Linked DNA regions of Homo sapiens: region 1 is linked to region 2. A link means that fine-mapping ties the variant in region 2 to the expression of a gene that starts in the linked region. Tissue or cell type: whole blood. Region 2 holds a variant in brackets; the other region holds the start of a gene. All regions are shown on one strand. Distances are from middle to middle.

Region 1 (2,760 bases), 59 kb before region 2:
AAAAAGGAAGGGAAACCAGTCGGTCTGGGAGAAGAGGCCCATACATGATGCCAATGACCCCACCATTTAGAGATCCAAGGAGGAAAATAAAGCACATCTGGTCTGGAGCTTGTAGCAGACGTGCGCCAGCCCCTCACCCCTCCAGGCCCGGTGCACCCCTACATGCCCGGGTGCACCCCTCCAGGCCTGGAACCCCAGCTGCTTGCTTTTCTCCTCAGTGGGAAAAGAGTTTCAGGGCCATGGCCTTCTGGGAAAGGGCCTCTCAGGTCTTACAGTGTGATGGAGGAGGGGAAAGGAGAGGATGAGATGAGATGAGAAGGAGACCCCAGCAGCCCATCAAGTGCACAGATCACCTCAGCCTATGGTGAAGACCTGAAACTAGCCTCATTTTCAGGGAGAATTGATGGAGGCCCAGAGAGGTCAGGACTTGACCCAGGGNCACCTAGCAGAGAAACAGAGCCTGGGAGTGACCCCATAGCAGGACCCAGGGCCGTGCTCAACACCTCTGTGGGTAAGAGGGACCAGTGAAGCTGGGGCTCAAGGCAGGGCCCCCACCTGGGACATGAGAAGAAGTGGCATCTTAGGCCGTTTCACTAGGTACTTCCCACTGGCAAAGTTTTATTGCGGAATCTTTTCGACAGCCTGGCAGGGTCCTGCTATAATTGCTGTCATCTTCCACAGAGAAAGCTGGAGCCTAGAGAGGCTGTGAGGACACAAAACCACACAGAATGAAGAATGTCACACACAGAATGATGCACAGAACACGCACACACTACACACAAACCACACACACAGTAGCAGATGGCAAAACAACAAGAAAACTACATCCCCAGCCCACATCCTCCCTGAACTCCAGACTTCCCTCTCCTGAGCATACGACTGCCTAGGGCAATGCCAAAGGAGCAAGAGCCGCAAGAATGTCCTGGACTTGGCCGGGGAAGGACCTGAGCTGGTCCTGAATGCCCTTCCTGCGGTTTCAGCTTCTCCCAGGGCTCAGGCCCCGGCCTCGCAGTCCTCTCACCTTCTGGATCTGGCCTGGTGACTGTCCTACAGAAGGTGGTTCCCAGTAGAGGCTTAGGGCTGGTATGGGAGAGGCCTTATATAGCAGGTGGCTGTAAAATCAAAAAGCACAGCTGTCTTCTGGGGTGGGACCTCTGGGTCAGACAGGCTAAGGCTTCTGGCTCTCAGACTGTGCCCTGCCCAATAGAGCTACAGGCTGCCCAACCCTTTGGCATCTGTGCAGCTCGTGCCCTCTCTGAGACCTCTAGGAATTGGGAACAACTTTGGTCAAGGCCTGCCTTTGGCAAAATGTAAACAGGAGTAAGGTATCTTCCAGCATTGTCTGTGGCCTTCTAAGTCAATTCCATGACCTGCTAATGACAAGCACCTAACAACCTGCTAACAGTCACCATGATTAGCCCATTTATAGATGAGAAAACCAAAGCACAGAAAGAGAGCCATAAGAGATATGCTCATGGGCACACAGCCGGGGCACAGTCAGAACTCAGAGCTCCGAATCAGACTATGTGGGGTCTGTGCAACTCAGGAAAGGGCCTCAGTTTCCCACAGGCAAGTGTCTTAACCTTGTTAGATTTGAGGGTCCTCCAACCAAGATGAGTGTAAACTCACTGTGCAGCCTCATAGTGTGGTAGAGGGACCATGACGTGAAGCCCCTGCCTGCAGTGTGCTCTGCACACTGGGTGAGAGCCCACAGCAGCCATCGAGAGAGTCTTTCTGGCCAAGTGATCTGAGCAGCTACTGGTAACAGCCCAGGTCAGGTCAACTGAGGCCTCTCTGTATTAGTCAGGTTCTCTGTCCTCTAGAGAAGGTGAGTTTATATATGTATGAAGGGGAGTTCATTAAGGAGTATTGACTCACATGATCACAGGGTGAAGTCCCACAATAGGCTGTCTGTGACCTGAAGACCAAGGAAGCCAGTCTGAGTCCCAAAACCTCAAAAGTGCAGCCTTCAGTCTGTGGCTGATGGCCTGAGAGCCCCTGGCAAACCACTGGTGTAGGCCCAAGAGTCCCAAAGCCGAAGAACTTGGAGTCCGATGTTTGAGGGAAGGAAGCATCCAGCATGGGAGAAAGATGGAGACTGGGAGACTCAGCCAGTCTGGTCCTTCCTCGTTCTGCTGCCTGCTTTTATCCTAGCTGTGTTGGCAGTTGATTAGATGATGTCCACCCAGATGTAGGCTGGGAGGCTAGGCCAGTCTAGCCTTTTGACATTTTTCTGCCTGCTTTATATTCTAGCAGAGCTGGCAGCTGATCAGATGGTGCCCACCCAGACTGAGGGTGGCTCTGCCTCTGCCAGTCCACGGACTCGAGTGTTAATCTCCTTTGGCAACACCCTCACAGACACATCCAGGAACAATACTTTGCAATACTTTTCAATCCAATCATGTTGACACTCAATATTAACCCTCACACTCTCCCAGTCTCCTCACACTGTGCCATGGGTGCTCCTGGTTTTGAGTGTGGACTTGAGTTATCTTCCCTCCTCATCTTTCCACTGTGCTGACACTTTATACACACACGGTGGGGAGTGGGAGGAGCCCACTCAGCCGAGGATGCAGAGGTTGAGGGGCACACATCATACCAGTATCCCCCAGCCTGCATTTAAACCTTGCAGTTCCCTGCTCTTGAAAATACCCCTTGGGGATGGCTACGCTACCTGTGTCTCAGCTCTCTCTTCCTTCCCCAAACTCATGCATTCATTCAACAAACATTTTTTGAGCACCCTCCCTGTCTTAGGCCTAC
Region 2 (2,760 bases):
CTCTCATTTGCATGAGCTCTAGAGTAGAAGTGAGGTGCCTGTTCTGTGTGAGGGGCAGATGAAGAATCACAAGCCACAAACACCCCCTCGAGTTGCTGACACCTGCCCTGTGCAAGCTGAAGGTGGCAGACAGGGCCAACGGCAGAGATCCTTCCGCTCCCCAGTCCCCTTTCAGGAGCTTGGAAATGATACATAAATTATACTTCAAAACTCGAGGTGTACTGTCAGAGCTCAAAAGCAGGAAAGGGAGCAGACTCTGAAAACAGAAGCGAGGAGTCACACAGCTAAACATAATAAAATGTGAATGTTGAATCCTCAGTATCCACCAGGGATGAATTGTTTGGGTTAGTCCCACACCTGGAGGCAAACGTTCAAGAAGAGCCCGGGATGACATTCTAAGTCAGAGGGAAATGGAATATGGGAAGCAATGGAGGCCAAACAGAACAGAAAACTAGGAACAGGTTTTGCCTGAAACAGAATCAAAGTTGAAAGAAGGCTAGAATAGAGGGAAGAATGAGGAGGTGAGGTGATAAAGACATAGCAAAGGATGGACGAGAACCAGCGAAGGGGACCTGCTGGCACCGCCCGGCTCACCTTGCAGGTAGCATGGTTCAGCATCTCCTGCCACGTGGGGTCCAGTCGGTTCTTGTCAGCCATGACGCCCTGCTCAGCCACAAACACCATTTCTCGAGCAGCGTTGTGCATGCTTACGGCCCGCTCGTACCGCAGCGCTGCCTTCTGTGTCTCCTGCTGAGCCTGGGGGGAGAGGGATATCAGGATGGGGAACCCTGAGGGACCCCAGCTGCCCATGGAGACCCATAATAGACGTGAGGATAAGAGAAGGAGGAAGGCCTACTAGCAATGTCGGCTTCATTTCCCAAACTGTGCTGAGGATAAATGCCAAGGAAGCAACATTCTATAAAGAATATTTCATAAGGATATGGACTAGAAGAAATAAAAATTTTGCCAGTGGAGGGTAGATGTGTGAAATCCAGCACTCCCAAAGGCTGCTAGCCTTTTCCCCTAGGGAAAACAAAGGAAAACACAAACCATTTTAGTGTAAGGTGGTTAGCAACATAGACAGAGTCTTACAGAAAAGATGACCTTGAGACCATCAATTCCATGTTCAGCAGGCAAGCTGAAGGAAGTAATCAGACAAGTGCTCAGGGACAGTCATCA[T/C]AGCCATACCAACCAAGCAAAAAACAAAACAAACCTAACTTTTCAGTTATAGGACATCGGTTAAATAAATAATAGTACATCTAATATAAGAAAATAAGCTGGGCGCAGTGGCTTCTGCCTGTGAGCCCATCTACTTGTGAGGCTGAGGGAGGAGGATTACTTGAGCCTAGGAGTTTGAGGTTACAGTGAGCTATGATCACACCATTGCACTCCAGTCTGGGCAACAGAGCAAGACCCCATTTCTTAAAAAAATAAAATATTAATCAGTCCTTTAAAATGACGGCTTGGATGTATAGTTATTGACATGGAACCATGTCATAATGCTAATAAAAGAACAAAATAGCACATACTGTGTAATCCCATTTTGGCTGGATATACAAGGACACGAAATATGATTAATACAGCACACATGGTTATCTGTGCTGTATTAATCATATTTTTATTTTCTATACTTTATGATGCTTTCATGTCTTGGGGGACCTTGCTGGCCAAGGACAAACTGCCCCTTCCAGGGCTAATTCCTAGAAACAGTAAACTCCCCTGTAAGTGTGCCTTTCATATGCAAACCAACCACCTAATCCAAAGCCTGGATCCCCAGCTAACTCCTTTACCTACTTCTCCCCGACCAAGCCGATATTTCCTCTGCCCTAAGTCATCCCAGGGCCAGGTACTAGACAATTAGAGGCCGCCCCTATAGCCCAGGGCCTAGCAAAGTTATTCCAACTATCCACTCCTAAACTTATCCAAACTTGCCTACCCTGCCTCACCTACTCCTTTCCACGAAAACCACACTAAGGCGCTGCGCTTTGCTTTCTCCTTCACTTCTGCCTCCTGAAGGACCCTGGCTGCTTCCCCGTGTGGCCCTGCATGGCATGGATGTCCCCTCCTCTCGGGAACAAACTCTTCTTCCAAGGCAGTTGTCTGTATCTGTCACCTCACCATACAGGATGACAACAAATCCCAGGAAACAAAATGCATGAAACGTGCATGGTAGGATTTTGGGTGATTTTTGTTTCCTTCTTGTTTTATTATGTTTTTCCAATGGTGAACACATATTATTTGTTAAAAGTAATTTGTTACAGAAAAAAGGGGTGTGGGATGGGGAAAAGAGTGAGGAGTAAGCAAAGAAAAGATTCAGAAGAGAGACATGAACCAAAGGGAAGAGGAAATGGGCGCAGATGAAAACAACAGGATGTTAGAACTGACATATCTGATATACCCTAAAGCCTGATTCCTGATACACAGAAGGCACTTAAACATTAGCAGGGCTGAACTAAATATTCTCCCACAGCCACCCTCACCATTTTATAGACCATAAGCCCAGAGCCCACGTGGTAAAGGAACCTCCTGAGCCCACAGAGCTGGTTCCGACCAGCCAGGTCTAGCCCAGGGCTCTGCCCTCAGGGTCTGGTGTTTTGTCTCTCACTCCATATAGAGACAGAAGAATCCAGGGCCAGGCTCAGCACGTAGCCTTCCTCAAACGTGGTCAGCCAGCCATACCTCCTTAGCCAGCCGCCGAGCCTCATAGTAGGGCCGGGCTTTCTCGATGCAGCTCCCCAAGTGGGAACCCTGTGTATTCAG

Evidence for each region. PIP is the estimated chance that this variant, and not a neighbour inherited with it, causes the effect. A credible set is the group of variants that fine-mapping cannot tell apart.
Region 1: it holds the start of LYPD8, and the variant in region 2 is the best candidate, but not a certain one, in a credible set for the expression of LYPD8 in whole blood (TOPMed, PIP 0.52).

The regions. Positions count from the first base shown.
Region 1 is chr1:248,754,684-248,757,443 of GRCh38, forward strand. It overlaps LYPD8 (LY6/PLAUR domain containing 8), which reads right to left and starts at 1,076. Exons shown (of 7, transcript NM_001085474.2): 1 at 1,022-1,076; 2 at 556-703.
Region 2 is chr1:248,813,855-248,816,614 of GRCh38, forward strand. It overlaps SH3BP5L (SH3 binding domain protein 5 like), which reads right to left. Exons shown (of 7, transcript NM_030645.3): 4 at 2,680-2,760; 5 at 595-756. Among named protein-coding and RNA genes, the nearest start is that of SH3BP5L, 11 kb to the right of the region's middle. The variant T/C (reference allele first, on the strand shown) is at 1,180.